4 separate regions of the Homo sapiens genome follow, and regions 2, 3 and 4 are each linked to region 1. Evidence: fine-mapped expression QTL. A gene starts in region 1. Each other region holds a variant in brackets. All regions are shown on one strand. Distances are between the middles of the regions.

Region 1 (8,105 bases):
AGCATGTTAAGATAAAATTACCTATTAAATGCAACAACATTCGAATGTTCCTAATTATAGTCTCATCCTAACAAGACAGAGCGGGTAAAACATGACGGTTGGGTGGCGGGTGAGGGATTGGTGGTGAAGGAGGATCTACATAGGACATGAAGATGAGGGACTGAAAAAGAATTTGTTCACATTCTGCTGAAATCTCCCATAGTTTCCTTCATAACGCCACAAGTCTTTTTTCGAAGTCTCAGCCTGTGCTCAGAGTCAGGGTCAAAGTTCAAACAACGTCAAAGTTTATTTTTGAAATAAAGGTTTATTTCCTCACGGAATTCTTGAAGGGTTTGCCCCATGTGTGTGAAGCATTGAGACTGGACTGAAAGGAATTTATTTTAGGACCCTGAGCCGTCTTTGGCTCACACGCTTACTGCCCTAGGAGATGATTGATGGCCATGTAAGTTTCCAGTCCACCCTTGGAGGCCCAGCTCTGGGGTTACATCCCTCCCACTCAGCGAAGCCTCTGTTGCCTCTAGGGCAGAAGCATGCTCTTTCCTCTCAAATCTTGTAGCACTGATCCACTCAATGTACCCACTCTTTTTTTTTAACTTTGCATGCTTCATTAATAATTTATCTAATTCTATATGTTTTGATAAATTGTTAATAATCATTATAAAGATAAACTCAATCCACAAATCCCTCTCTTTTCAGAGTGTAGCATTGATTAGCCTTGATACTGTCTGCATTGTTAATTGAATTATAGGCTCTATCTGACTGAAAAGCTGGCAGTTCGATTTCTTTGGGCTACTGGGCTGCCTATCTGAGGAGAGAGAGTTTAATTGTATTCTTAACTGCAGAGCCATGCATTTATACCAAAAAGGGTAAATGACATTTAAAAAGAGAGTCGATTCAATCTAGTATTTGCCAATTCTTGTTAATTTCTCTTGGTACAGACACTTAGAACCAGAGAACAGAATGTTAGAGTTAGGATTAATGAGCAGCCTTTTCATACCCCCACTGCCTGTATATATATTTTTATTGAGTCTCATGGCAAGAGGGTGTGGGGTGAAATATATATTCTTAAAACTTAGATAAAACACAGTGCGACCCTGTAGTTCCAGCTACTTGGGAGGATTGCTTGAGCTGGGTAGTTCGAGTTCAGTCCAGGCAACATAGCAAGACGTTGTCCCTAAAACCAGAAAAAAAAAAAAAAAACTTAGATAAAACAATTGACTGTAGAGGAATATCAAAGAGAAAGCCAACATCTCTTCTTAGCCACCAAGTTGCTACTATCTGGCATATTTGAGAGGTAGCAACATGGAGGCAGTTTTCTTGTTTCTCATCCTGAAATAAGACTGAGGGCTGTACTGGGAAGCTGGGTAGGTTACATGAGGTTTGCTCATAAATTTTCATTTTGCAGCTGTGGAAACTGCCAGCTCAAGGAAGGAGAAATGGCATATCCTGTGTCACTTATTTATTCTTTCAAGTTCATTTTTATTGAAATTCTAGGTTCTTAGCAGCAGCTAGGAAGGCAGATTGGGAGATGGGAAGGAAAGCAGAGGCCTTACTGGTCTTGAGTGGTCAATGCTCCCATTTCCTCCTGCCTCTCTGGCTACTCCTTCTGTCTCTGTTTCTAGGTCGGATCCATACCTGATTCCACAGGGGCTTAGGCTTAGGCTCAGAGTGCAACTCCAAAATCTGGTGTCAGGATGAACTGCTGCAGGCCTGGAGCATGGGAGTTGGTGGGTGCGTGGGAAGCATCCAGCACTTTCAGGTCTGGCTTGGCTGTGAAGGGCCTCCCCTTCTCTTCTTTGCACCTTCATTTTCTCTCTCTCCTTCTGAATGTGAAATGCCAAGGTTTATAGGCAAATCAAAGCAAATGTTGAATTCACAGAGCACTTTCTGGCTACTTGGCTCTGGAGATGTGAGCGCAGGTGGGGCGTAGCAGCCTTGGCCTCCACATGAAAAGTTCTTAAGCACTTCCTTCCTTGTGTCAGGCAATGTTCTACTCCAGAATCCACAACGACTCTCTATAGCCCCTTCGGCTGAGTTGAATCCTTTAGTAAGGCTCTTCATATCTTGCTCTGCCTATAATCCTCCATTTATTCATTCATTCATTCAGCAGGCATTTTCAGAGTACCTGTGGTGTACCCGTCACTGGGCTTGGCACTGGGCATACAGCAGTGAACAAGACAGAAGTGATTCCTGCTGCCATGCAGCTAACAATCATGTGGGGGAGACAATATTATTACAAAGGAATATTAGTATTACTATTAAACAAGGATGTTCATATCACCCTCCAGTACACTGTGCCAGATACTGTGCTAGAGGGTGATGTGGGAGCACAGGAGAGGACACTTTACCCTAGCTGCTTTCCTGCCCAGCCAGCTTGGCTGGAGCACGGTATTTCAAGAACTCTAACTTTCCCTCCACATACCAGAGCCTGGCTCCCTACGCTCCTTCCTCTGAGGCTTTCTGCATCTCTGCTCACCTCTTGAACCCAAGGCAGCCCCTTATTCGAGGTCTCACCTTTCCTGTTGGGAAGAGACTGGATAAGAAGCAAGGTGACAACTTATATTCCCTTGGCTTCTTCCATCATACATGCAGACCCACTCTAGTCCTGGCAAGGGAGGAGGGACTCTGCTGTGAAGTGACTCCATTGCAAATACTTGATGTTTCCTTGACGAAAGCCAGGGCCATCTCATTGATGAGGCTGGAGTGAGAGCAGACTAGGCTGGGGGAAAGGGGGTAGGGCCAAAGCTGGTTTGCTTGGAATTGGGCTTGTTATTATAGATCTCTGAAAGATTCATCAGCATCAGGAATCAGAGTAGTGAGGGAGGCTCAGCGACCAGGCCCAGTCCAGGCCTGCTGTGCTCAGGCAGTGAAGCTCTGACCACACAGTCTCCTTCAATCTGCTCGTACCTCATTTCTTCTTCTCCAGAGCAGAGATCAGTCTAAACAGCTCATAGGTCAAGGAAAAGTATCCCTGGAGAGTCCAGCCAAGTCCCTGCTTCCTCCCAGTTGCTCTCTTGGCTCAGGTTTGAGTTTGCCAAATCGAGAATTTGGGGTTTTTATTCTGCAACTGGATTTTACATTTCAGAAAGGGTACAAGTCTTTTGCCCATTTGTTGATTCTTATTTTAATCAGAACCCAACTTTTCTAATATCCATGTTCTAATTTACTAAACAAGAAACAACTATATGCTGAAAAGGGAAATCGGATTACGCTTTTACTTTATTTTTAATTGACAAACAATTATATGTATTTATGGGGCACGATGTGGTTTGATGTATATATATTAATACATTGTGGAATGATTAAATCAAACTAGTTAACATATCCATTACCTCACATATTTACCATTTTTCTGTGGTGTGAACATTTAGAATCTATTAGCAATTTTGAAATATACTAGTTGTAGAACCTTCTTGAACTGCTTCAGGGACAATTAATTATCTGAAGGAATGCATGAAAACAGGCCACGCTTAGAATCATTAATGTAGATGCAGGTATTCTGTTCAAAGTATTTTACTGGCCAGTGTGGTGGCTCATGCCTGTAATCCCAGTGCTTTGGGAGGCTGAGGCAGGAGGATTGCTTGGGGCCAAGGAGTTTAAGGCCAGCCTGGGCAACATAGGGAGATTCCGTCTCTTCAAAAAATAAAAACTAAATTAGCAGGAGTGGTGGCACGTGCCTATAGCCCTAGCTACTCAGGAGGCTGAGACCGGAGGATCCCCTGAGCCCAGAGTGAATTCAAGGCTGCAGTGAGCTGTGACCACACCACTGCACTCCAGCCAGGGTGACAGTGGTAGATCTTGTCTCTTAAAAAAAAAAGTGTTTTGCTAATGGATTATAAAGGATTATAAGGATGTGAACATTTGTAAGAGGAAAAATGAGAAGAGAATGAAGAGAAGGAAGAAACCGAAGTACACCAAAGTCAAAGAAGTGGGTTAGAGGAGAGTCAGATGGGAGCTCAGTGTGTTGAAAATAAGCGTTCTGAGTGGAAAGGTCCTAAGTGCATGAGGACATATGCTCACGTACTCTGGTTTTCTGAGGACAATAATGTGCCCCCTCTTTTCTGCCTTCTGGAATGGAGAGAAATCAGGCCGTGACCACAGGGTTGCCCGCACTGAAAGCACATCTCGGCTCCTGTAACCCTCTTCGGAGAGCATCCCAGCAGCCCAGCCTGGCCAGGGATAGAGCCTATCCCAGCTGGCGGACCCTACCAGAAGGAGGCGTCCCTGGGCTCTCTTTTTGCATAAACTATGGAGTGGCGTCCCTCTATCTGAATTAAGTCTATTGTTCCAGAAAATGGGTTTGTTTCTATTCATCCACTCCAATGGCTTTACAATGTCCAGCCACTGTGGGACTCCCTAGAGACATTGTCTTCTTGAACAGTCGAATAAGATATTTGGTTTTTTGGTCCTTATTTCCAAGCTCCTGGGTGCTAGAAGGTTGTATTCACAGCCTAGTCTAGCCCGTGCGTGGCACCGAGTACGTTTGGGAAAGGAAATCTAGATCAATAAAGTCAAACTATTCGGTCGGTCTTCGCTGATTACCCGCTGGTGTGGGCGCGGGTGTGCTTGAATTTTTTTTTTTTTTTTTGTAATTATGAAGAAAAAGTTTAAGTTAAAAAAAAAAGCAAAAAATAACTTTAACCATCAGAACTGGGAGTGGAGCTCCTCAGGAGGACCGGGGCACACATTCTACACCGTACCTTACGTCCCCCCTCACGCAGACATTCCTTCTTTCACGCTCCAGCTCGCTCTTTTTACTCCTACTTCCCTTTCTCCCTCTCCCGGATCAAGCGTTAATCTGCGAATCTCTGACCGCAAAAGAAGAAAAAAAAAAAAGGTGGGTGGGGGGATCCCGAAGTAGCAGAGCTAGGAGGAGGAGGAGGAGAAAAGAGAGGAGGAGGAGGGGGGAGGAGGAGGAGGAGCCCGGCGAAGCAGAGTCAGAGGGACTGGTGGCTCCGGCGAGTGTGCAGCCCCGGGGGAGCCGGCGCTCTAGGCGAGGAACCCGTCAGCCCGCCTACCCGCCCGTCGTCTTTGGCGCCCGCACGCTCTCCGGCCCGCGCCCAGGGGCCTGCTACACCCGGAGCTGGGGCCGCCGCTCAGGGGCGCTCGGGCCAGGGGCGCTGCTCGGGGTGAGCCCGCCGCGCCGCCAGACTGGTCCCCTGCGCCCGCGCCCGCGGCCGGGATGCCGTTCTACAGGCGCACGGTGGTACCCCAGCGCCTGTGCCCGCGCAACCCGCCGCAGCAGCTGGCGGAGCTCCGCGACGTGAGCCACCTGGCAGCGCTCAGCCTGCTCCGGCAGCTCGCCGACCTCTGTGGCCACTCGTTGGCTCTGCTCGAGGACCTCGAGGGGCACCTGCTGGCCCTGGGGCGCCGCACAGACAGCCTGTACCGGCGCACCGTGCGCCTCCGCCGCCGCCTTCCCTGCCGCCTGCTTGGCCCGGAGGAGGACGAGGAAGAGCTAGGTAAAAACGGCGCCCCGGTGGCTCGCGGCCCCGCGTCTACCCCGCCTCTAGGGGCGCCGGTCGGCGCTTAGCGCTGTGCCCACCCTCTCCCCGCCTCTCTCCGCCCCTCCCCTCCCCTCCATTCGGGGAGTGAGGGGATCCCATTTCCCCGACCCCCGCCTCCGCCCCACGGTCGCCCTACCGCTGGAACTTCCTGCTCTTGGACCCGGTCGCGCCGTCCGGAGTGGCCCCGTGCCCTTGGGACTCCCGACCCTGGGGTTGGTGGCCGCCTCCTGGGGTTTTGGCTGGGGACGCGCTGGGTCCAGGACGGCTTGGGCGATACTCCCCCTACCCGCCCACCTAGCCCCAGGCCCTCGGCGCCGTCCTCATCGCCGCGTCGGGAGCTAAATGGCCGAGCCGCTGGCTTCTTTGCTCCTGTCTAGGAGCTCGGCCACTTCAGAAAGCGCGCCGCAGCCGACCGCAACCTACGCGGCGGCAGGAGCCGGCGGTGGTGCCTACAGGCTTTAAACCTGTGCAACTTCCCGCTGGAGCGTGGACGCGGCTCCCACTCACAGGAGTGTCTGAGCGTCCTCCCGCTTGCTTCTCTCCGCACGTTTTGGGCCGCTGTGCTGGGGAGTGGCCGGGAGGGGGGAGGGGAGAATGTCCGGGGCTTTGCTGACCCCCTACCCACTACCGCTAGGGTCTGGCTGTTATTTGCTGGAGAGAATCATTTAAAGAAACTATCATCAGTTTCCTGAAGCGCATTCACTTTAGGAATCAGCCATGCCTGAGAAACCAGGTTCCAGTGGTGCCCTCACTGAGCACGCGGGACGTGTGAGAGGGTAGGGGGGCTACGCGAGCCCTTGTCCTTTACTGTTTTGGATCCCAGCACTTTACACGGGGAATCCTCTGTCTGTGGAAATGCAGTGCCCCTGAGAGTGTGGGACTTCTGCTGAAAGCAAGGGGACTGAGTAGGCTGGAAATGCTGACTACAGCTGGGGCATGCCAGGTACCAGGGCCAATCGGTTCCTCCAGAAAGCTGGGGAGAGAAGGAGCAGTGTGGCCAGAAAGTTTCCAATGGGGGCAGAAGATGACTGCTGGCTGATTTCTGAGTGCAAGCTTCCAGCTAACTTGGGAAAGAATTGCCTGGGCCAGCCCCTCTTCATTGCAGACCCCACCCCATCCCCACCCCTTCCAGAAGGACTGGAGTCAGGCCCTGGCACCTCTCTTCATAAAGGTCTCTGACCTCTGAGGTAGATGGCAGAGGTCTCTGGTGGAGATAAATGAACTGAGTCCTATTGGAAAAGAAAGGTGGAAGCCACAGATGACTGCCAGATGGAATGTAGACGTTGGACCAGGAGCCTCTGCATGGCAGGGGCTCAGTTTTTTGCTGGGGTCCCACTGATTACAGGATTAGTCTAGGAGAAATTTGATAAGTCAGCTTGAGGAGTAGTTTTCAAAATCCCTACACAGTTTGCAGAGAGCCACCTACTGAGTTCAGTAGGGTAAGTTAAGGACAGTTTTTTCAACTCTACCTTCCTGTCCACTGAATTAGCAAGCCCTTTCTGTGGGAGGGAAGGCAGGGCTTCACCAAGTCACCTTTGGGACCTAACCCTCTCCGGTGATCTGCCAGGTTAGAAGGAGATGGCTTTATGCAATGGATAGCTTGCAATGGAGAGGAACAATTGTTAAGTTAAATTACCACTGGTTTGGCTTCTTGGCAGTTTTCAAGAGCAGGAAGAGTGGCCATCTCTCATCCCTGGTGTGGCCTCTTGCTTTTGAGAATGTACATGTCCCACGGCTCAGAGGCACCCAAGGGACTGCTGCATAAATGGAACACAGCTACCTTCTGTAAGTTGGTGAAAAGGTCTGATTTTCCATTTTCTGGTCTAATGCCCTACCCTAGACTCCCCTTGAAGTTCTCAGTGCACACTTTTCTCTTCAGGAGCTGTAATTGGGTAGCACTGAAATTAGGCCTTCTCAGCAATGGTCTGAACATAAGTGCCAAATGCAAAGAGAGTTGGGGAGCGTAATCAGTGCACCATCTGGCCACTCCCTTGTCGCTCAGGCATAAGCTTCAACAGGGTGTTTAGCAAGCCGAATATTAGATTTTGACCGTAAGTAAGTAAATAAATGAACATTGTCATGTCTTGCCCTTTTTTCTTCCCTATGCGTTTTCCTCCTAGGATTCCCACTCCCTTACTGACCATTTTGCTGGGGGTCAGCATTTTACCCTGCATATCCTCCATCTGTCTGGATTGCCCTCAGATTCTTCCTCTAGCTATTTATTTTGACCATGGGGCAGGAGAAACCTGGGAAGGTGGGAGGAAGGTTGGAAAGCAACATGGCCAGAGTGAATGACAGCTGACAGGCCAGCAGTATATAGCCTCCCTGCAGTGACAACTTGGCTGCCACTGACTGAGTAGTGGCAAGTCAGACTGGCCTATAGCCTGCAGGCTGGGCTGGGGCCCTGAGAAGCAGCAGGGGAGGACAGAGAGAGGAGGAGCGAGATAGAGGAGGAGAAAGTGGATGCTGAAGAAGTTGAAGGTGCTTCTCTACACAATCACAATCATGGGTCATGCCCCCACCATCTTCAAGGTTACAGGGGTGGACTGGGCTAGGCTAGTTGCCTCGCAACATCCCACCCACTCCACTGAAGGCTGT
Region 2 (8,105 bases), 210 kb after region 1:
AGCTAACCAAATTTCTTTTGAATTCCCGTTTGGCCCTCCGCCTCCTTCTGCCTATACTTGAGAGCCTTGGCCAACCTAAGAACATACATATATGTCTTTTACAGTCAAGAAAATGAGTCTTTTCTACACTCCTGCATGTGGAGCTCTCAGCCTGAACCTCCAAAGCATATTGTTATGTCTCCTCAGCTAACTGAGGCAGATTCATTCTGAACCAGCTTCTTTATTAGCCAGTGGCTATGGTGCATGAGGCTGTCAAAATTCTACCCTCTCACTGTGGAAATTAAGCTGCAGCCCTTTTAGTATATGGCCACCAGCCAAGTGTTGCTCATTTGTGACTAAATATGAGGGCCTGGGGAAGAGCAGAAGGCAGCAGGCCCTGGCCAGCCAGGACCCCCACGCAAGGCATTGTGGATACGCCTGGGGCCTGCTCTTCGTGAGTGCCACTCGCTTTGAGTCTTGAATGGGAACAGAGGCAAGTTAGAAAAGCAGAGGCCTACTGCTGTTTGGGCCATATGTCTCCTTGGTCACGGCACCCAGGACTGTGCTTCTCTATTTGGCAGGGACTCAGCTGACAGACGGTAAAGTCAGGAAGTCAGGAAAAAGAATTGGGGATTTTGGGCAAGTGCTAATTCTGGCTAGTGTTTTGGGGTCCCTGGCCCAGTTGGTCATCTTTCCCCTTCCCTCTGCAAGCCCTAAGCCTGGCTAGGGTGCTAGTGTGGAAACATTCATTAGTTCTGAAGATGTCTTAGAGCCACATGTCCACTTAAAGATTATTTCCAGACTAATGAAAAATCTGTGTGTGCAAGCAGGTCCCCATTTTAAAATGGAGCAAAGCCCACCAACATTTCCATGGTAAGGAAATGGCAACAAATCAACTCTTTGGGATGAGTATGTAGTGAGCTTGAAACTCAAACCAAGTGTGACCGCCTCAGCCCCACCCTGGGCTGCTGACTCAGGACCAAGAGGAAGAGGGAGCTGCCAGACTTCACAATTTCTGTAAACAGTTCTTGAAAAAGAAACCACACACTTGTCTTTCTGCCAGCCCCCAGCTTGTCCCCGTAGCTGACAGCGCTGCCATTGTCTTTTCTCTGACACCCTAGGGCAGGGCTTCTTAACTTGAGCTCCATGGACCTCCAAGGGGTGTGTGGAGAGAATTTAGAGGGTCTACAAACTTGGATGGGAAGATTAGTTGATCTTTTCTCCATGAACCTCAAACAACAATTTAGCATTTTCTCAAATTAGGAATGTAAGTGACAAACCACAGTAGTGTTAGCGGTATCTGTGACTTTATCACCAACAGAAATCACAAATATTTTCATATCACATTACTGTTGTTGTAAGTATCTCAAAAAATCATTTGTGTTCATCACCACTTCAACATTTCTAATCTATAGAATTGCCACTAAATCTTGTGATTTAGCGCATTATGAAAGTAGTAACACAACTAGATCACAAAATTTAAAAAATATTTTTCTAACCATTTCGGTATGATTGTTTGCCTTTGTGATTCTATGTATTTTATTTTATGCACGTGAAAACATTATTCTGAGAAGGAATCCGGAGGTTTCACCAAACTACCAAAAGCGTCCATTACCTAAAAAAAGACCAAGACCCTGCCCTGGATCTTGGAACTCTCCTGCTCCATGGGCCTCACTTCTGATCCACAGAACTTTGCCTATCTTACTGGAGGGGTCAAAAGCACTTGCATGTTAGTGCTGTGACACTGGTCAGGAGAAACTTTCTGTGCCTAGTTTCTTAATCTGCAAAAGGCAGAACAATAACACTACCTACCTTATAGGGTTGTGATGATTCAATGGGTTAAGAAATGTAAACCACTTAATGCCCAATACACGGTAAGCACTATTAGCTATTTTTGTTGTTATTGCTGGTTTATATCAATCATCTCATTAATATATGCTATTATTATCTCAATTTTCAGAAAAAGGAAACTGGGGCTTAGAAAAGTGAAATTACTAAGTCAAGGGAACACAGCAAGGGAGTGGCAGAGCCAGGGTTCAAAGCCAGGTCTATGTGACTCTCAAGCCCAGTGGAGGTCACTCTTTAGCACACTACTGAGAGGAGGTGATGTCCCTCAGAGAAATGGAAGCCATCAACAGGGTGCTCGCTGGGAAGGAGCAACTCTGCAAGTTCCTGCTTTGTCTCCCCTGCTTTCCCTACTGTCCACACCTCCAACCTTATCTGGGGGGCTCCTAGCTCCACGTGCATACCATCAGTCCTCAGTCAGGTCTCAGGGGGCCAGTCCTCTTTCCAAAGGCCATTGCCAATGCAGCCTTCATCTGCAAAGAGGACAAGTCCATGTTCTCCCACTGAACCACAGTCTTGCAGTAACAAATTCACTTTGGAGTCATGGACCAGCCTCTGCTCCCAAGTAGATCTCAAGCCTCACAGGCCAGTGGGGTCGGGGTTAGAGGGCCTGAGGGGAACTCAGAAGGGCAGGGGCTTGTCTGGGGAGTGGAGGCAGTTTCGCGGAGGAAGTGGTCTTGGAACTGAGGAGAACATTGCCAGTTGGAGTGAGGCCAGGAATGTTCATGAATTTTTAAGGGAAAGGGAATGGAGTGTGCAAAGGCCCAGAGGCATGCAAGGGCCTCGTATGTACAGAAAAGCAGGAAGTAATTCAAGATGTCTGAAATTTGGGCTAAGTAGAAGAGGAAAGAAGGATAGCATAGGCAGATGAGATGGCATAGATAATTAATGAGCAGATAGGGAAGAAAATGCCAAAAGCAGGTCTACAAGTCTTCCCACGAGGAAGGAGAGCCATTGAGGGGTTTTGTAGAGGAGCAGCAAGGCCAGGTGTGTGAATTCAAAGGCCCACGGCCCCCACCCCCAGGCATGTTGAAGGTGGACCTATTAGAACAGGTAGAGACTAGAGCCTGCTTCAGTAGCTCAGGTGAGAGAGGAGGAAGGGCTGAACTGTGGGTGGAGAGGTCATCAATTTGGGGACACTCTTTCTGGCAAGCCTCACAGCCAACAGGCCTCATCTGTATGATGCAAGAGGTGAAGGAGACCACAGTCGCTGGAGGCACCCGCCCTTCTCTAGCTTGGTCATGTGAGGAGATCCTACAAGG[C/T]AAGGCTTCCCCAGGCCGTGGGACCTTCGCCATGAGTTCACCTGCTGACATCTTCCCTTTTAGCCTCTTTCTCACCCGAACAGCCCACTGCAAGAGCAGAATAAAAAGCCTGGGCCCTACTTTCCCACACAAACACACCACCCCCACCCCCCATCAGGAGAGTTGCTGAGGCGAGGGGCCCCGCTCTACCCCATGTGTGGCAGGCAGGAAGGGGAGAGGGGACACAGGGAGCAGGTCAGGGCCTGCTCTCTGTCAAAGGAAATATCCACCCTCCTAAGCCTTTAAGAAACTGTTTTCTTCCAAGTAGGTCCCGCTGTTACCAGGGCAACCGAGAGCCCTGGTATTTGTGTTTCTGTCTTTGGAGTCCCTGGGGAGAAGTGGCCTGCCGAGCTTTCCCTAGTCTGGGCAGGATACAGGAAGTGCTGGCCGGAGGTGGAGCCCACTCCCCACCTCCCATTAAGGGGGTGGTCTCTTGCCTGATTAATGCCTGTCCTTATCCCCTGGAAGAGTCCACCCCCACCCTCAGGAGCCACTTCTGGCGGTCAAGGGCACAGGCTTTGGCTCCTATGGACCTGGTTTCTCGGGGGCAGAATTCTGCACCTACCTTGTGGCACATCTCTCTCAAATGGGTGTCACCTGCTGTCTGAGGCAGGTATCCAGGAGGGGCAAGCTCACATCAGACCATGGTACCTGCTGAGGGATCGTCACGCATGCTATGTTTCTTGATCACTTACTTTGTGCTAGAACTGGATCTGTGGGTCGGTTCTTGCTCCAGGGAGCTCTAGGGGAAGGCTCAGAACCAAACTGGCCATTAAATGTCACACGGGCTAGTTAGTTCCCAAAGCTCTATGCTGCTCTAGGCTGGGCTGTGTTGGATGTTAGAATTGCCTAGGGAGCTTTCTAGATGTAGACATTCCTGGAGATTTTGTTTCCAACGGCGTGGGTGCAGGTGGGGAGTAGAGGTTAAGAGCATGGGCTCTGGATGTCAAACTGCTGGGGTTCACAGTCAAACTCGGCAAACAGGGCAAGTGACCTCAAGCCACTTGCCTGATTGGTTTCCTCACTTACAGAATGAACGTGGGGAAGTCACAGCTGTTTCACAGGCAGCAAGATTTTCCTTGCCTTCCTCCATCGCTCAGCCCAGGAGAGGGTTTTTAGGACCCTCGCCATCCTTGTCACCCTTCTACTGTCTTCCTTCCTTCCTTCCTTCCTTTTATTCTGATGTTTTCTTACTCCTGGCAAGCCAAAGGGCTTCTGTGAGGTGCAACTTTGTCCCCTTCCACAGGGCAGCCAGGGCCCCAGGTGGGCCCTGCCCATCTCAAGGATTTCACATTGCTATTGCAGCAGCCCAGGAAAGCATTGGCGCATCTGACAGCCAGGTCAGTCTGTGATTCTGACCGATCTCCTGTCAATTCACATCCTCAGATTTTCATTTTCACAAGCTTCTTCTAAGCCACATCTCCCCCACTTAGGCTTCTGCAGTTGCTTTTCTGAACCTGACTGCAGGATCTCAGATGAGCCCCTAGTAAAGGTCATTTCAGTGCATCCTTCCAGGTTAGGGAGAGTTTTTTGGCCCCTCATTCCCTTTTAGAGGACATTAGAGGACATCTTCTAGTCCTCCAAGCTTTGTACCACCTGCAGATGCCCTTAGCAGGCTGCCTCTAGGTCTCCATCCAGTGGCCCATTTATTCACTCACTTCTTCATTTATGTACCAAACTAGGATTGAGATTCTACTGTGTACCAAGTAGTGTGCTGGGCCCCAGGGACTCAACAGTGACTAGACAGATCAAGAAGCCATGGCCCGAGAGGGGATGAGACTCATGCCAGAGCCCATATAGAGTCAGCAGCAAGGCTGGACTGGAATCCAGGGTTCTTTTCCCCATTCCCACAGTGCTTCCTGCTTCAGGGTTGGGGCAAGGCTGACTCTGTTTGTCTTTTTTTCCACCTTCTCTGGCCATAACACAATCTGGGCTCACCTATCACTACTTGTGATGTCATAAGAAATCCCCTGGGTGCTGGAGACCTTGTCAGGCACCCTGAAGAGTACTGGGGAGTCCTAGTGCTCACTGATGAAGCCCACGACCCCATAACCCTGTTCCTCCCTAGAAGGGGCAGTCAACCACATACTTAGAACTGCCACCTGGCTGGTTCCCCCAGAGCTTCCAGAGATGGTGCACCTGATGCGTGCTTCGTTGCTTTGGCAAAGACCCAGAATCCAGGCAGGTTGAGACTTCAAGCTTGTCAGGAGTCTCTCCTGGGAGATAGCAAGCACGGTGTATTTGAGTTAAGAATGTATATGGGTTTGGGAGTCACGAAGACCTGGAGTCCCCCATATGACCTAATATCTCTGAGATTCAGGTCCCTCAGCTCTAAAAGGAGACAGCATCACCTGCCTCACTTAATTGTGGAGATGAAATGATGTTGGCGAAAGTCCCTGGCACATGGTCAGAAATACCATGGTTTCCTCCCTCCCTCCCTTCCTCTTAAAGGGACAAAGCAAATGTGCCTCTGAAACCAGGGTTTGTTTCCCCCACGGGAATCCTGCAAGCTGGAGGCAGGGGGGGTAGGACAGGGCAGAACTAGGAGACCAGCCTGGCCTGTTAGACAGCAGGGCCAGCGGAGTGGGGGCAGAGAGGTGCTAAGTGTCCCCAGAGCTAATGGGCAGCTGCAGGGCTGTGACAGAGCCACTCACTAGCTGTCAACCTTGGGCCAGTGACTTCTCTCTAAGCCTCAGTGTCCTCATCTTTAAGATGAGGGTAAGGGTAGTTAGTTCTTTCCCCCCAGGATATCATTATCAGAATGAAATAAGATAACAGATGTGAAGTGCCTGGCACAGCACTCAAAAGCAGCAGAGGCTTAATGAATGTTCCCACCCACTTCCCCTGGAAAAAAAAAAAAGTCCAATTCATGCTGGGAAACTTGGGCAAATCCCAGAATGGGATTCAGTTTCTTCTGACCCCACAGTCCGTGAGGAGCCATGAGATCTTGCTTGGAGGGCCTCTTACATGGACTGCTCTGGGGACTTGTGATTCATCACCAGCTAACTCACTGGTATCCCATAGCGCCACCTAGTGCCAAAAAGCGGAAGGGCCCTCCCCAGCCAACCTGGCCTCTTTCTCTTCCTTCACTCAAAGTCCCATGCATGCCCGTGCGTGCCTGTAGGGCTGGGCCACCCATAGTCCCCGGGAGAACGAATGCTATTTTTCAAGATGCCCAGTGCTTCCACTTCCCTCCCAACAATTTCTTCCATCCACAAATGCACAGAACTGTAGACAGGTCCCTTGAGCCTCACCGGCCCTTGGTTTCCTTGTCTAAGGATTTCAAGACTTCAGGGTAGGGTTGACTCCGGCAGGGGACCTTGGAAGTACCCTATGCCTACTCTGTACCCATCTATGCTTGCTCAATAACAAAGAGGCACAATCTTTACACACCCTTTATATTTTTATTGAGGAGAGAAAGCTTTAGCATACAGAGCAGCTTCTTATCTTCACAACACAGTAATGCAACAATAACACATGTATTCCAAAAGGGTTTCCTCCCGAGCCTCTGGGAGACCTTGGGCTGCCTTCATACCCCTGCATGCATCCCCTCCCCCCACCCCTCTTTCAACCCAAGAAAGCTCCCAAAGCCCACAGTTCCTCTTACAGCTCTTATGGCTGTTACATCACAACAAATATTGAAGATCTGGGAAAGGAAGGAAGAGGGTCAAAGGGAAGCCCAAGCCCCTCCTGCCCCAGAGGGTGGAAACCAGCTCACTGCTCATCTGCTCTATCCCTGGCTGTAGCTCTGAGGGTTCAGGGTGAGAAGCACCATGGGAACAGGCAGGACCTGTGCTGAAGGGTCCCTGGAAGTGTGGGTTTAAGGCACCCGTCCTTCACACTTCTCCACAGGGACATGGGGCAGCAGGGCCAGAGTGTTGACCATCAGCAAACAGGGTCCACTGCCTCGAAGAATAGCAGGTCCCCTCGAAGAATAGCAGGTCCCCTTCTGGAATGCACTCTTGAGGAAATCAGATAAAATCAGCTGAAAAACAGACAAAATTTTCTTTACAAAGTTGTTTACTCCTGCCCTGGTGGGGATGGGGAAAACCAGACAATTGAAAGGTCCAACAAATTAGGAGAATGCTTAAATGAATTATTCAGTATGCATGACTGCACAGGTGGCAGCCATTTTAAATCCTGCTGATCAAGAACTGGCAGGGTGATCTCAGCTTTGACAAGACATAGCAAGAACACACTAGAAAGGAAAGCAGCAAAGTGTTAATAGTGCTTGCCTCTGTGTGGTGGGACTCTGAATGGCTGGGGGGTTTTTGTCCTCATAGTTTTCTCTATTTTCCAAACTTTCTTTAATGATTATGTATTACTTTTCTCTTTGGAGAGAGGGGATCTTTTTAAAAGGTAGCAACAGGTTATAGGAATCCAAATCCACTGATCCCCAGGCTGAGAAACAAAAGCGCTAATGAAAAGGGCATCTTACCTCCCACTGATGAATAGAGACCTCACCAGAAACCAGTCAGAGGACTGGGTTTCTCTGCGACTCCTCTTCCTCCAGCTTTTTTCTCTTGCCTCCAGGCCCAAGATCCTAAGGTCCGCCTGAGATTATCGGTCAGACTCCCATGAGGAACAGAGGTTGAATTTACTATGCTTTCTTCCCTTTGGCCACAAACCCTGGCTGCACTTGCTCTGCTGCCAGTCACTGTGCAGAAAGTCCAGTGTCCAGGGGCAGTTCAGGCCAGCAGTGGATTTGGCTGGCATTTTATGGCCAAAACTGACATAGTAAGTGTGTGTTTTTCACTGCAGAAGCAGTGCTTTCTGGACTCAAGGCAAGCAGTGGGTCTCTTTATAAGGGCACCTGAGTTTGTACCTAGAAGTCCCAGGAGTTCCTAGGAGGCAGCCACCCTCTTAAGCTTTACTGTGTCACTGAAGCACAGCAGCAGGCCAGGGGTTGGCCCCCATGAGGGGTCCCAGCTGTGAGGCCACGGTAGGTGCAGCCTTCCTCTCTCCTCTCAGAACTAAGGG
Region 3 (8,105 bases), 200 kb after region 1:
CTTAGCACCTAGTGCAGAGCCTGTCACGTGCATGGGAGCTACCCAGTAGCATTCTCTTGGACGGATAAATGCATGGGTGAATTAACATGCTTTGGATATTGTCTTTGTTGTACCTCCTCAGGGCTCCCAAAGCCTTAAAACTAGAACTTGTCACCTCATCACTTTAGAACCTTCTATTTGCAGGCATCTATGCACCTGCTGATCTCTCCCACTAAGAAAAGGTGACAAGAGAAACCAGCCAGGGGATTCCTGAGGGTAGTCTAGGAGTCTCGAAGCCTTGCAGTGGTCTTCCAGGCTGAATCATCCTACCTCGAGAACCAAGAGCATGAGAGTTGGCATCAGACAGACTTAGTTCAAGTCTCAACCCTGCTATTTCCTGTATATATAATCTTAGTCAAAAGTCATTTCACCACTCTTAAGATTTAGTACTCTACTCTGTAAAATGGGGCTAAAAATACCTACCCAGCATTATGGTGAGGAATAAATGAGAAAATGTGTTAGGTTGAATCCTATGAAACTGTCCAAAGCATTTAAATGCCAGCAAATTTGTATGGTTCAACCTAATATATAAAGTAGCCTTTATAAACTATAAAGTATAATAAATAGCCCTATATAAGTATTCATTATTCTTAACAGATATAATTTGTAAGTCACAGAATATTGTTTCTTGCAGTATTAGTAATCCCTTTCATCAGAATACAGGTCAAACTAACAGAAGAAGCCACTTATCTGACAATCGTGGGCTGCAGGCATTTCCTGGAGCATTTTGGCCTGGGAAATAGGGAGCAGGTATTTTTAGGAAACTAGACTGGTTCATGGAAAGCAATGGAGGTGAACACCAGGGTGACTCGTGACAGCTCCTACCTGGAAATGATTAACCCGCAAAAGCACAGTAGGAGTTGGCACATTCTCTTGCCCCAGATGGGAGTACCCACTCCCTAGCTCCAGTAGCAAAGCAGAGGCTGCCTAGGACAAACATTCCTTCCCGGGGGACAGAGCCAAAGGGTCCTAGGCCAGCAGACATCTGGAGGAAACTAAAAACAGCTTCTTGCCAACTTTTCCCTCCCTAGTGGCAGCTATCAAGCCCAGGTAGCTCCTCTTGACCTAGCAAAGTCCCACGCCTGGGAAAGCTTGGATTTGGAACTGATAGCTGCAGTGGCCACAGTGGAGGGAGTGGGGGAAGGTTCTCACCATATTATGCATCGCTCCCTCAATCCCAATCCTAGATGTAAAGGTCACTGGGATTTCAGGCCAGAGGGGACTGGGAAGAGTCCAGAGAAGTGCCCACAGATTTGCTCTGCCTCCGTTGCTGGCACCCCAGGCCAAGGACTACTGAAGCACTAAACAAACAGTTATAAACTTCCTAAGCAGTGTTTCTCACCGAGGGCATCATGGCCCTTGTGGGTAAGACAATTCTTCATTGTACAGGACAGTCCCATGCATTGCAGAACATTTAGAATCTGGTAGCAAGGTAAGAGTAGAGCTGGATGAGTCCCAGGTCCAAGGTTCAGGAGAAGGATCCAAGCAGAGTAGTGGCCTCTTCACAGCTCCAAATGGCACCTTGGTGAAGGCATCTTCAACTAGATGCTCTACAACTAGCTTGATGGCTGTGCACTACCCCATGAGCCAACTGACTGGGTAATCTTGGTTGGGCCATCAGAAACATGTAAATTCACTCAGACAGGGCCTGGGACTTGAGAGGAGAAAAGCCAGAGAAGATACCCTCCCAGGGCTGCCCATGGGCAGGCAGTGCTCTGCACAGCTCTTAGCCCCAAGCCCTGGCCAGCCTGTGGCAGAAGGTCCATGTGGAGAGTGAGGCCGACTTGACCCAGTGCCCGAGTACCAGTTTCCAGCATCAGCCAGGATGGATGTGGGATGCGTGACATTCATTCAGGGAAGTGTGAATATCCAATTTGAGCTACAATGTGGACTCCCCATAGCACAGAAGTGCTTGACCAGGAGTTCATTTACTTAAATGAGAAAAAAATTATAACTTTGTCTTCATTAACCTGTAATTGAAAGTTAGCTTTCCTTCCATTATGAACACAGGCCACACATCACAGTGGCATTAGCCTGTGACTTTGTCTCGAACAGGAGCCACAGATGTTTTTATATCTCATTACTGCTGCTGCAGGTGCCTTAAATTACTGTCCCATTCACGACTACTTCAAAATCATGGCAGTCACTGGACCCGCCACTAGCTCATGTTACTTAATGTGTTAATAACGAAATGCATATTACTATGTTGCAAATTTTAAGACATATATAGATAACTTTAAATGCAATTGACTTCCTTTGTAATCCTATGTATTTTATTTTGTGCTTGTAGAAACATTCCAAGTAGAGGCCCATAAGTTTCATTAGGCTCCTGATGGAGTCCAAGCCATTAAACTGTTAAGAAATCCTGGATTAGAGGGTTGTCAGGAAATCGGCCTCATTTGAGTCAACAAGGAAGGCCTTGAGTATGAAGATAAGGAGCATGGGCATGTGTTCTGCTCACATTGAGGGGATGCTAAAGGTTTCTGAGCAGGAGGTTGCCCAAGGTGACGCTGAGGTCTCCAGCCTGGGATTCATTAACAGAAATACAGAAGTCAGGAGGAAGAGTGGATTAGGATAGCAGGAGAGGTTCTATTTTAAGTATATTAAATTTGAGACTAAAAAAGTGGGTATCCAGGTGAAGATGTCCACCAGGCTCTGAGAAATGCAAGTGGGCAGACTGGGAGAGTGGCTGTGGCAACAGGAAAGAGTTGAGGATCATCCTCTGAGATGATCTTGGGGCGTTTGGAGTGATTGTGCTCAACAAGGAAGAAAAGGCAGGGAGAGAAAAGAGGCCAAGGCAGGGAATTGTCATAGGCTGGCATCTCCAAGAAACAGATTTGGAGATATTGATTTGCCTGCAAAAGGTTTGTTGGGAACTGCCTTCTAGAACAGCACCTGTGAGGGAGCAGGATCGGTCAGAGACAGGAGTTCACCTGCAGTGTGGGCACACTGGAGACCTCAGTTGATAACATGGGAAGCTCTGGAGCTGAGATGCTCTTCAGATGGCCCCAGTTGAGGCCAGGCAGCTGGGCCTTTCTTCCCCCACCTCCCACCCCACCCCATCTATTAACGAGATCTTGGATGCAGGCTGCCCCCCAGGAAAGGGGTTGTTACCTTGGAGAAGAGACTCAACCGTGAGCCATGGACCAACACCTCTGGTAGCTGGGGGACTGAGTGCCTTGGTCCTGAATGGGGGATCAAGCAGCTCAAGGTCTGGTGTTCTAGTCACTCAGGAAATGCAACTGGCTCCCTCCCACCCTGCAGGCCTCTGGGCAAGTCCCTCCCTGCAGCCCAAAGCCAGGTATAGGAGTCCCAGGGACAGGGAGTCAGGACCTAAAAGGAATTTGAGTCCTTGATGCCTGTAATTCAGAGTCCTCAGTCTTTCCCCCAACCTCTCTCACTTGGGGCTAAGATAAGTGGGATGAGGTAGGC[G/A]GAAGTTGGAGGGAACCGTGCCGTTGTCATCTTCTGCACAGTTTGTTTATAAGAGGTTACCAAACTAAGCAAATCAGCCACCATGGAAACAGTCTCTGTGGCTTTCACATCCCTCCCTTCCTTCTGGGGTGACCTGCATCTCAAAGAGGGATGTCACCACAGTTGAGGTTACAGGTCTGCTCACAAGGCCTGTGAGCTACCCAGGAAATGCAATACTGTTATAGCCACCAGGTGAAAGAAGGTTGGGCTTCATTTTTAAAGAGAGAAATATAAAAACTTGACTTTCGATTTTGACGTTCATGTCCTTACGCCAAAAAATCAAACCAAATAGCAACTGAACTGACTACGTGTAATTTCCCCCAAACCTTTGAAATTTACAGTAGCTCTAGGAAACTTGAATCCATGAGGCCGGGCGCGGTGGCTCACGCCTGTAATCCCAGCACTTTGGGAGGCTGAGGCGGGCAGATCATGAGGTCAGGAGATCGAGACCATCCTGGCTAGCACAGTGAAACCCCGTCTCTACTAAAAATACAAAACATTAGCCGGGCGAGGTGGCGGGTGCCTGTAGTCCCAGCTACTCAGGAGGCTGAGGCAGGAGAATGGCGTGAACCCCGGGGGGGCAGAGCCTGCAGTGAGCCGAGATCGCGCCACTGCACTCCAGCCTGGGCGACAGCAAGACTCTGTCTAAAAAAAAAAAAGAAACTTGAATTCATTCATTCATTCCCTCATTACACACACACACACACACACACATACACACACAAAGGTTCTGAGTTTGCAAGATGATAGGCTGAAAGACCAAGTGTGGCCTGAAGTTCAGGTTTTTTTGTTCTGCATGGTTTAAAAAACGAATTTTCCACACTCAGAAGTGCAGCTTAAAAATAAATAAACAAATACCATCTCATGCCAGTTAGAATGGCGATCATTAAAAAGTCAGGAAACAACAGATGCTGGGGAGGATGTGGAGAAATAGGAATGCATTTACACTGTTGGTGGGAGTGTAAATTAGTTCAACCATTGTGGAAGACAGTGTGGCGATTCCTCAGGGATCTAGAACTAGAAATACCATTTGACCCAGCCATCCCATTACTGGGTATATACCCAGAGGATTATAAATCATGCTACTATAAAGACACACACACAGATATGTTTATTGTGGCACTATTCACAATAGCAGACTTGAAACCAACCCAAATATCCATCAATGATAGACTGGATTAAGAAAATGTGGCACATACACACTATGGAATACTGTGCAGCCATAAAAACAAATGAGTTCATGTCCTTTGCAGGGACATGGATGAGGCTGGAAATCATCATTCTCAGCAAACTATCACAAGGACAGAAAACCAAACACTGCATGTTCTCACACATAGGTGGGAGTTGAACAACGAGAACACATGGACACAGGAAGGGGGAACATCACACACCGGGGCTTGTCGGGGGGTGGGGGCTGGGGGAGGGATAGCATTAGGAGAAATACCTAATGTAAATGACGAGTTGATGGGTGCAGCAAACCAACATGGCACATGTGTACCTATGTAACAAACCTGCACATTGCACACATGTACCCTAGAACTCAGAGTATAATAAAAAATAAATAAATAAAATTTTTTAAAAGGCCGGGCGCGGTGGCTCATGCCTGTAATCCTAGCACTTTGGGAGGCCGAGGTGGGTGGATCACGAGGTCAGGAGATGGAGACCATCCTGGCTAACACGGTGAAACCCCGTCTCTACTAAAAATACAAAAAAATTAAATAAATAAATAAATAAATAAACAATAAATAAATAATGTAAGTTAGTTCCCAATGCACTTTCTTAAAAAATCTTAAGATCTGGTCCCAATGGATGAATCAGCTAATACTAAGGGGTTTGGCCCCCTTGTGGGTAGGCAGGGAGTTCCACGGTTCACGGCAGGGCCCATTTAGCCTGCTTCTCTCTTTGGTGTTACCTGCCTGGGCCCTGCCAGTGTTTGTGCTCATGAGCCCTTGATTTGGCTAAGCTGGGTGCTGAGGTTACACAATGATAGATGATGTCATTGCTCTGCTCTGCTGTCTCCTCTGCCCTCAGGGCTCACCATCTCGTGGGGAGGACGACTCATGTGCACCAACAGACAGAAGACAGAGTCCCGGGGGGGTGTTGGAGGAAGGAACAACCCATGAGGAAAAGCGAAGTTGGGACAATGTCATAGAGACTCTAGGAGCAAGGGTAGACTTCTACTAGGTGGAAAAGAGGGCAGGGGTGGGAGAACGGCATTCTAGAGCAAAGGAACAATTCAGCTGATGAATGGTGCTCCTAAAGGAAGTGGCGCATGTGAAGCGGAGAAGAGGCAGGGGCCAGAATGGGAAGACCCTGTCAGCCAGCCTGAGGAACTGGCATTTTATCCTGATGGTTTTGAGGCAGAGGGAAGAGCTGATATGACTTGTGTGTGTCTAGAAGATGACTCTCTTGGCCCCGTGGAGGCTGGATCGTAAGAGAGCAAGATCTGAGGGAGGAAGAGCAGCAGGTAGGAGGTTCTTGTAATTGTTTAGGTGAGAAGTAACAGGGCTTTGATTTGGAGAGGTGCCAGTGAGTGGGAGAAGGAACAGATTTGAGAGGGAGTTAGGAGGTCAGATTGACAGGTCTTGGTGATTCCTCAAGGTGGAAAGTAAAAACCGGGACCCAGTGGCACAGTGGTGTGCAGTGTTATCCTAGCCATGGCAGTAGCTGCCCTTTGTTAAGGGTTCTGGAGCATTTGCAGTACTTGCCCTTACATTAACTCACCCCAGCCTCAAAGTCAAAGACACCAAACTTCTGCCTGTCCACAGGCTTCGTGCAGCACTTCCTAGGTGCCAGGCTGAAGTGTTGCCTTCACATTCACTCACTGCGTCATCACAACTTCCCTAGGAAGTAGTTACTATTCTTACGTCATTTTACAGATGAGGAAACAGAGGCCCATAGAGGCAACGTGAATCTCCCAGGGTCACACAGCTGATAAGCGACAGAGCCAGGATTTGAACCCACATCGTCTGCTCCAGAGCCTTCGCTCTGCTGCCTGGGGGCGGGACCAGAAGAGTGGTCACTGAGCACAGAGACCTTCTGCACACAGAGCAGCCTGAGCAAACTGCAGCAGGCTAGTAGTGTGTGCATCCCACACATTTCTCCAGTGAGCATCTAGACGTGAAATCCCGAGGCCTTGGATGGGCTTTCTAGTTCCAGAAATTTGAGGACATGCGGGTCCGGCAGGGAAGAAGGAAACGCTGAGCCCAGGTTGCCGGCACTGTAGGCAGTGAAGGAGAGCAGTCAGGTCACACCACACAGTTCCCTTCCCCGCCCCAGACCATAGACCCTCCAACAGCTTTCAGGTATGTCGAGCATCAAACCCCAATTCCTGACCGCAGCCCATAAGACTCTGAAGTAATATGGCCCCTGACCACCTCTGTGACATCTTTTCTTGCCATGCTCCCCTCATACATCGCACATACACTGGCTCCTTTCAGTCATCCTTTTCCACCCCAGGGCCTTTGCATTTGCTGTTTCCCCTGCCAAGTGTGCTCTTTTTCTCTTTGTGCGGCTGGTTCCTTCTTATCATTCAGATCTCCTCTGCTTTAGTGTGAACTCCGTGAGGGCATGGACTGTGTCTGTCCTGTTCACTGTTGTATTCCCCAAGCTTATGGGCCCAGTACACAGAAAGGGCTAAGTATTTGTTGAATGAATGAGCTATTTTGGTACCTGCTGTGTGTCAGGCACTTTACAAACATTAATTCGTTTAATCTTCAAAACAACCCTGTGAATTAAGTGTGATTGTTATTCCCATTTTATAGATGAGGCACTGGGAGGTGACTTGACTTGCCCAAGGTCACAGGGCTTAGGAAGAAACAGAGCTGGAACTGGAACTTGACTCTTGACTTATGCTGGCCCCCCTAAACACATTGCTCCAAAGTGTGCATTCAGGCAGGTTTTGTTGTTGTTTGTTTGTTTGTTTGGGAGACAGAGTCTCATACTGTCGCCTGGGATTGAGTGCAATGGCGCGATCTCGGCTCACTGCAACCTCCGCCTCCCAGGTTCAAGCCATTCTCCTGCCTCAGCCTCCCAAGAAGCTGGGATTACAGGTGGCACCACCATGCCTGGCTAATTTTTGTATTTTTAGTAGAGACGGGGTTTCACTATGTTGGCCAGGCTGGTCTCGAACTCCTGACCTCATGATCCGCCCGCCTCAGCCTCCCAAAGTGCTGGGATTACAGGCATGAGCCACCTCACCTGGCCCAGGCAGGGTCTTCATTGAGAAAGGCTGGGGCTCTGTCCTTCCGTGTGCTGCTTTATATGGCTAACTTAAACTTCCCCAGAAAGGAATTGAAGCAATTCTGGTGGCCTCTCAGCTGGGGTTGTTAAACACCCTGGTTGTTCCACCTTTTCATTCTTATTTATTAAAAACTCCACAGAGTTAGAGAAGTTCTTCAGAAAGCAAAGCAGAGTTCTCTGCTCAATGAGAAAGTCACCCCATTCCAGTAGGAGATGCAGCCAAAACCCACAGGACGGGGCATCACCCCAAGGATGCCGGGAACAGAGGGGTGAAGTGCTTTTCTCTGGTCCCATATTTTCTCCACCAGCTTCTTAGTTGCCTAGATCCTTGCTGCTCAAAGTGAGGTATGAAG
Region 4 (8,105 bases), 140 kb after region 1:
GCTACTCAGGAGGCTGAGGCAGGAGAATTGCTTGAACCCGGGAGGCAGAGATTGCAGTGAGCTGAGGTTGCGTCACTGTACTCCAGCCTGGGTGACAGAGCAAGACTCCATCTATCAAAAAAAAAAAAACAAAACAAAAACCAAACCAAACCAAAACCACGTTACAGATGCCACCGACGTCCCTGCATTCTCCTCCTCAGTCCTATTTTTTATTGTCTGGGCTGTGATGCAAATCCAGGCTATGTTTATGCATCCATAAATGGTATGTACTATTTGGTTTTGCACTTTTAAAATTTGTCATAAGTGCTATTATACTACATGAAGTAACTCTAAAATGTGCTTTCTTCACTCAGTGTTATGTTTTTTGGTATCTGTCCCTTTTACACCCATAGATGTAGTTTGTTCATGTTAACTGCTATATAGTATTCCATCAGATGAATAATAAAATTGATTTCTTAATCCACTACTGATAGACACTTAGATTATTTCTATTTTTTACCATTACCAACTATGTTACAATGAACATTCTTGTAGATATTTCCCCATGCATGTACAGAAATTTTCAGTTGTATGTACCTAGAAAGAAGTCAAATTGCTGAGTTGAGGGGTATCTGTAGATATTGCAAAATCGCTCTTTCAGATGGCTATACCGATGCACAGTTCTGCCAGAAATATCTGAGAGAATCTGTTTCTCTACAGCCCCATCAACATTTCACCCTAGGCCCTCCCACTCTGTTCTCACAGTGACCGAGTTTCCTAGACACTGTCATACCAGGTGATCATCTCCTATCCAGCCCTCCTTCCTCTTGCTTCTCCTACCTCACTGCCAGATCAACCCTATTTAAGGTTTCCTTCTCCACAACATGTTCCCGATCTACTCCTCTGGCTGGAATTTAAGGCCCTCCACAGATGGATCCAGGCAACCTTTCCAACATCATCTCCTGCTGCCTGCCCTCAGCACACACTCAGGAAGTCTTTGGTTCCTCCAGATTCTTCCACTTGCGGGTCTCTCTCCAACATGTCCCCACCTGTTGCCTGCACACCTCTGGTCCTGCCACCATTCTCTACACCTAGTCTCAGTGTTCACTTCCACCTAGGAAAACCTCATTCATTTCTCACAACTTGCCTCAATGACAGCTTTCTTGGAAGCCTCTCCAGATAACTCCAGGCAGAGTCCCCCTCTCAGCTCCCACTGTACTTTATATAGCATTTATTTCTCTATTATAGTATTTATCCCAGCAGCTTATACAAATCAGACATAAAGCCTCTTGACTCTTTTGCTTGGAAAGTAAGTGTAACCAAAATGGATCTCGTTTTCCTTTGTTGCTTAGAATTCCTTCAACAAACTAAACAAATGTGTATTACATACCTACTCTGCACTAGGTGCTGAGTGGTGGCTGAGCCAGATGAGGCTCCTGGCTTTGTGGCACTTCCAATGTGATGGGGTGAAGGGTGACATGCGTGGTTATCATCCTCTGAGAAAGTTGCCCTCCTCAGTCCTCCGAGGCACACCTGTCTGACTGGATGCTCAATTCCTAGTTTCTGTCCCCAGTGCCTGGCACCAACTAGGGGCCTCAGGGCGAGCTTGCTTGCATGGCAGGTCGGGCATTAAAAGTCTTGGACAGTTGAAGGAGGAGAACCATATTTCAGATAAGTCACAGAGGTGCCAAGAGGCCAGGAGCCTGTGACCTTCAGGCCAACCGCCCTGGGAGTTGCCTGGGAGGCCACATGATTTCTGGAACAAGGCAAAGGGTCTCAACTGAAAGAGATGGGCTTGGGGATGAGGGAGGAGATGGAGTAAGGACCTGGCTACATTGCAGTCCTCCCCATTCCTTCCTCTTCCAGTCCAGCTTCCCCCATGTCCCTCTCATTCCTCCAGGAGCACACGACACTCTCGCCTGGTCTATCCAACTTAGGCTGACCACCCTGGTGGTTTTTAAATGAGTCATCTTCCTGTGTTTGGGAAGGGAAGACCCCCTCCAGGTTGCAAATGAAAAGGGTAGGTGGGGGCCTCTCCTGAGCCATCCCTCTCTCCACCCCTTTCTTCACCCTCTGCTCCCCCCAGCCCCTCTGTAGACATTCTCTGGCCAAGCTGCTAACAGAAAAGGAGGATTTTCTGTGTTACTAATATGTTAACGGTGCAGCTGTGACTCAGCCCTCATGCCCTCTGTAGAAGGAGGCTTGATTTCCATTTGCAAAAGGCAATAGGGATCTGATGAGAGTCTTTCCTGTGTGGAAACATTTCCTGCTCTTGCCCAGTCGGATTGGCACCTTATTTAAACAGCCATAACAATACATCCTAAATTGGGTAAGGGAAATGGAAAACAATGTTGAGAAGAACATAATGACCAGAATTGAATGTGAGCCTTGCCTCGTTAGGATTTGAGTGCAGCAAACCAGGAATTAGGAGCCTTCTCTCTGGTCTAATCAGCTGCTTCACCCCGCGCACCCCAGGCTTCTCAGCCATTTCTTCTGAGAAGTTAGGGGGCCCATCCTCTCACTGGATTCTTGCGACAGTCGCCTGACCAGTTTGCCTGTCTCCATTCTCTCCACCTCCAATCTTCTCCATTCTGGGGACAGGACGCTCCATAACTCCTTATGACCTCTGGCACAGTTTCCTAGAACTGTGTAAACTCCACCACACTAATTGAAATGCCTTCAAGAGGTACAGATGAACTTTTCTTTTTACTTGAATGCTTGCATATTTATTTTTCTATATATGAGAGAAAAGTATAACCAGCATACCTGTGAAATCCATGATTTCACAGAGATATTATTGCTGAGAATGAGGCTGAAGTTCAGAATCGTAGACTGGCAGAACAGAAAAGGGCCCGAGGGATCATCTCGCCATGCACATGTCTTTGCCTTCAGTTCCAATTTTTGTATGCTGTCTGACTACATCTCTGCGTGCTGACCTCCTACCCAACCTTCAAAGCCCATCTCAAAAGCTGCTTCTTTCATAAGTTACATGTTGTCTCTCCCAATAGACTGGGAACTGTTTGTAATACGCTCCTCATTTTGGGGTCCACTCCTCCACCCCCATCTCATTCCCAGCACATAATTGGCCTCAAGCAATGTTTGTGGAAGAAATTAATACTCCTACCATCTACAGCAACACAGAATAAGTCTGCTTCTCCTTCCCAGAACCTGAGCTTGGGATAGACACTCACAGCGAGCTCCTTGGTGGGGTCTCAAAGAGAGTGGGTGAGTTCCTTGAAGGCTGCTTGGAACCAAGGACTCCACCTAAGGACTTGGCCATCATGAAGAGAACCTCACAACTCTTCAACAAGGCCTCACTGAACACCTGCTTACTCTGGGCCAGCTCTGCTGTAGGTGCCAGGGATACTCCATAGCCCTCTCTTCCAAGGAGATGCTGCAACGCTTTCTCTGCCATACTCCTCTGTCTACACTGTGTGGGTGGGAAGTAGAGCCTTCCTGCTTGCATATGTCAATGACAGGTTCCAGTACTATTTTGACAGGTTGTTCCAAAATGATTGCTTTTTGATTGGTGCAGTAAGCTTTAGGAAACCCCCCAATCTCCACTCCCATCTCTCCAGTGCAATAAGCAGAACATTTTCAAACTCTTCCCTGGGCCACTTTAGCTGTTGTCTGAGCTGATCCGCATTCTGTCGTTCTTAATAGCTTCCCTTTCAGAGAATGACATGCTCTTCTGGACTCTTTCTCTCTCTTCTGAAATAGAGTTGGTTTTTTCTTGATTAGAAAAGTAAAATATGTGTGTCTGTTTACTTATTGGTAAAGAGTTTGTTACTTAAAGCTCTTTATATAGTAAAGATATTAACCCTTTTCTGTCCTATGCTGCAAATATCTTTTTCTTTCCCAATTTGCTATTTTCTCTTTGATTTTTGGTTTGTTGTGCTTTGGGATGTGCTAACATTTTTTTAAATGATGCTGCCAAATATGTTGACATTTTCCTTTGTGATTTTAATGCTTAGAAAGTCTTGCCTCCTCCCAGACCAAATAAATACTCATCTATATTCTCCCCAAGTGGCGAGGATGACATTCATCGACCTCACCCCATTTGAGTTCTTTTGGGATCCCCTTTTCTAGCCTCCATGATGCCCCTCCCCCTGCAGTTAGCACAATTTTTCTTCAGTTGAGGCACAAAGCAGTCATTAGGCTGGAGCTTTAAATATGCTAATGAGATCACCCTTTCCCCCGTCACTCTTTCAGCCCCTTTGTAAAAGGACAGCTTGGGGTGGATCCCTTTGCCTGTTGTCCCGTCTCCCGCTTCCTAACCCCCTTCTTTAGCAAGCGGGGAGAGAAAGAGAAAAAGGAAAGTGCTAACTAACTTCAAGTAT[T/G]GGAGGCTACCTAGATGTCACTCCATTTCCAGTGTACACTTTTCACCTCTCCTCAGCAACTACATTTTCAGTTAGGTCCGAATCCAGAGCTCCCAGTTAATGGAAAGTCCCTGCGCATCTAAACACTCAGACTTGAGCAAAGTCACGCAGCCAACAGCCCGAGTTCCCCAGCAACCGCCAGGCCGGGCTTGCTGCATCTTCTCCATCACTGGCACGGTTGCCATGGGAACGCGAGCGCTAAATTACTTTGCGTGTTTGGAAGCTGAAGACCTCAGCTTTGACGCATGTAGCCCAGAAATCGATTGACCTCCAATTAGGTTTTTGTTGTTTTCTTGAGGCATCTTTCTGTTTGTGTCTTGCCTATGCCTCTTGAGGACTGTGTTGGAGGGAGATCTGAGCATTTAGCTTAATTTTTGTAAAAAATTATTTCCACCTTGACTTATTCCAAAAAGGGTTTAAGGTGGCTTATAAGATACATCCTATACTTGGAGAGAACCTAAATTAGATGTAAGGGAGGAAGATGAGGCAGAGAGAAAACAAGGGTAACTTGTGAAGAAGTCGTGATAGAAAGTGAATTTCAGGAAGTCCCCTCTTGATAAATGTGGGTCCCAAATTTGACTTTAACCTTTCATGGCAGATAACAAAAAGGGAGGTATGATCAGTTATAAGATTCATAGATAAAAGCAAATCAACTGCTTAACAGAAACGCAAATGTTCCGAACCTTGAGACTAAAAATCTACTTCTTTACTGGAGATTCTAAAAAAGATGTCACCTTTTTAGTCCTATCACCTAGCATATTACTTGAACAGATGAAAGCATATTCTAACCTTGGTAGGTGGTTTCTTTTATCAAAACTTTCCACTTTTGTTATTGTTGTTGTTAAATAAGTAAATTGCTTTTTTTGTAATGGCAAAATAGAAAAAAATCGTGTAAATAACCATGGAATACTATGCAGCCTTTAAAATTTTTTACGGAATTATTACCACCTAGATTTGGCCACCATTAACCCTTTTTTTAAAAGCGGACATTTTCCCATGTAAATCAGTACCTCCTTTCTGCAGGACAGTTGGGCAATATGTTTCAAAAGGCCTAAAAATGTATACATCCTTTGATGTGGCAATTCTACTCTTAGAAATGCATACTAAGGGAATAATCAAACGAGTGCTAGAGATGCATGTACAAAGATGTGCATCAAAACATTGGTTATGATGTAAAGAGAAAGGGAGAAAATTCTGTGTTCCCTACAGTAGGTGACTGGTTATGTAAACTATGGAGCATCCATATAGTGGGGCATTATGCAGCTGTTGAAAACAAAGATGGAAGTGTCTATTTACCAACAGGCCTCCTAGACTATATCAAGCCTCACCAATATACTCTCTCAGCACCCTGTACCCTTTATTCATTGCAGTTGTTATTGCTTCATAATATATGTATTTGTGTGCTTATTTAACGTCTGCGCACACACACACACACACACACACACACGCTCACACACAGACTGGCATGTCCATGAGGATGGAAACTAAGCCTGTTTTACTCCTTATTGGTATCCCAAGTACCTTGGTATGTAATAGATAATAAATATTATATTTGTTGACCAATGGACTGGCTGAAGAAATGAATGAAAAATCAAGGCCACCAGGCATTCAATTCTTCAATTTCCCTCCCATCCATCCCAGACTTCCCTCAATCTCCAGCTGAGCCATCAGTGCTGCCTACAAATACTTTTACTTTTGTCTGGTCTCTATGGCAGCTGCTTTACGCCTTCCCTGGCTCTTGAGGCCGGACTACCTACCATCTCCTACTTTTAGACGATGATATCATCTCTTACTTCCCAGAGAAATTGGGAGCCAGCAAGTATGGAGTCCTTCAGTGCCCTTCCCTACCAGGGCCTGATTCTGTGAACTTCAGACACCAGGAGGCCATTGGGAACCCAGGCTGGAGCACGTTGGGTAGATTGCTAGAAGGCAAAGCCAGACATCCCTGCCCACTTCTCTCTGTGAACCTCTCTCTCTAGCAATCCCCTTTCTTTCTGCCATCAAGCCTCTTGAAAAGGTACTTTATTTTCTGCCTCCCATTCATTCTGTCCTTGTTTGCATTCAAGGGCACAGTTAAGTATACTGTTGTGCACACCATTATCTATCCATGCAAGGTCCTTAAATTTTTTTATCTTATTTTTCCTTTCATCTCTAATCTCCACTCCCAGTTCCTCTTTAATGGTTTGATACATGCTGTTGGAAATGTCTTTGAAAATTACATAGTGTTTTCTGTGTTTATGTGCTTTTAATTTACATAAATAGTATTGATCCATAGATCATATTCTGTTTCTTTTTTCCCTCAACCCTCTGTTTTGAGGCCTTTCGGTGCTGCTATGTGCACATCTCGTTGATCACTTCTGTCTGACTTGGCACTCATCCACCACATTTTACTTCTCCCTTCCTCTGAGACTGTACATCTTGGTTCTGCCAACTGTCCATGACCACAAATAATGCTGCAATGAACCTTCCTCGACTTGCTCCTAGGGACCTGGGCAAGAATTTCTCTAAACCAGAGATTTTCAGAGTACAATTCACAGACCCCTCAGAGTTTCTGAGACTCTTTTGGAGGATGCTCAAGGTCAGAGCTGTTTCTACGATAACACTAGGACACTATTTGCCTTTTTCATGAGGTTGATTTTTGCACCATTTGCAAAACTGTTGCCACCTTAGTGTGAATCAAGGCAGTGGCACCAGCCTGTACTAGCAGTCATTGTATTTTGTATTTTTCACCACTACATACTCAGAAAAAGGGGGGAAAAGCCACCAATCTTACTGAAAAGTAGCTTAGATAAAGCAGTAAGAAATGGCAATTTTTATTAAATCTCAAGCCTGGAGTTGATGTCTTTTTAATATCCTGTGTGATGAAACAGGAAGAACACAGAAAGCACTTCTGCTGCATGCTGAGTGAGATGGTTGTCTAGAGAAGAGCACTGTGCAATTGTTTGAGGTGTGAGCTCAACAGGCCTCCTTTTTCCTGGAACGTCATTTTCACTTGAAAGAACAATTGACAGGTAAACTATGGTTAGTCAGACTTGAGTATTTGGTGGACATTTTTCTCAAAGATGAACAAAATGAGCCTGTTGCTTCAAGGAAAACAGCTCACAGTATTTGTTACCAAAGATAAAACTTGAACTTTCAAGTGAAAAACAGAATTTTAGAAAACTTGTTTCTGGCACCAGGGGCTTGACAGCTTCCCAGTTCTTTTTTTTTAAATTGTTATTAATTTTTTTTGAGATGGAGTCTCACTCTGTCACCAGGCTGGAGTGCAGTGATGCAATCTCGGCTCACTGCAACCTCCGCCTTCCCGATTCAAGCGATTCTCCTGCCTCAGCGTCCCGAGTAGCTGGGATTACAGGCACGCGCCACCACGCCCAGCTAATTTTTGTATTTTTCATAGAGACGGGGTTTCCCCTTGTTGGCCAGGATGGTCTCGATCTATTGACCTCATGATCCACCCATCTCGGCATCCCAAAGTGCTGGGATTATAGGCGTGAGCCACCGTGCCCGGCCAGCTTCCCAGTTCTTAAAGGCTTTCTCTGCCTGCCCCTTAACTCTTTATGATCTGTTAGGATTCTCCAGTTCCTTGTCCAGAAAATCCTCATTGTAAAGGACACCAGGATTGCTACCTGACCTGGCTTGCTAAGGCCCTATGCATGAGAGTGGACACTGTCTTTGTCCATCACATTGCAGGAGTGATTTGGTCTGCATGTCAGGGAGCTGCACAAATGTTGGACTACTGCACAGGAA

Alleles and levels. Positions count from the first base shown, and alleles are read on the strand shown. Sizes are in standard deviations (SD) of each study's normalised expression. Not every link is listed here.
In carriers of allele G in region 3, the expression in whole blood of the gene that starts at base 4,940 in region 1 tends to be higher than with A alone (small effect, 0.16 SD a copy in GTEx).

The links. PIP is the estimated chance that this variant, and not a neighbour inherited with it, causes the effect.
Region 2: its variant is fine-mapped to the expression of NHSL2 in whole blood (TOPMed, PIP above 0.99).
Region 3: its variant is fine-mapped to the expression of NHSL2 in whole blood (TOPMed, PIP above 0.99).
Region 4: its variant is fine-mapped to the expression of NHSL2 in whole blood (TOPMed, PIP 0.94).

What each region holds. Positions count from the first base shown.
Region 1 is chrX:71,905,906-71,914,010 of GRCh38, forward strand. NHSL2 (NHS like 2) reads left to right here and starts at 4,940. Exons shown (of 8, transcript NM_001013627.3): 1 at 4,940-5,462. The coding sequence starts at 5,183.
Region 2 is chrX:72,120,601-72,128,705 of GRCh38, forward strand. The region is part of intron 1 of NHSL2 (NHS like 2); the gene reads left to right. RTL5 (retrotransposon Gag like 5) reads right to left here. Exons shown (of 1, transcript NM_001405151.1): 1 at 6,510-8,105. Among named protein-coding and RNA genes, the nearest start is that of RTL5, 7.3 kb to the right of the region's middle. The variant C/T (reference allele first, on the strand shown) is at 3,087.
Region 3 is chrX:72,102,051-72,110,155 of GRCh38, forward strand. The region is part of intron 1 of NHSL2 (NHS like 2); the gene reads left to right. Among named protein-coding and RNA genes, the nearest start is that of RTL5, 26 kb to the right of the region's middle. The variant G/A (reference allele first, on the strand shown) is at 3,472.
Region 4 is chrX:72,050,775-72,058,879 of GRCh38, forward strand. All of the region lies in intron 1 of NHSL2 (NHS like 2), which reads left to right. Among named protein-coding and RNA genes, the nearest start is that of RTL5, 77 kb to the right of the region's middle. The variant T/G (reference allele first, on the strand shown) is at 4,320.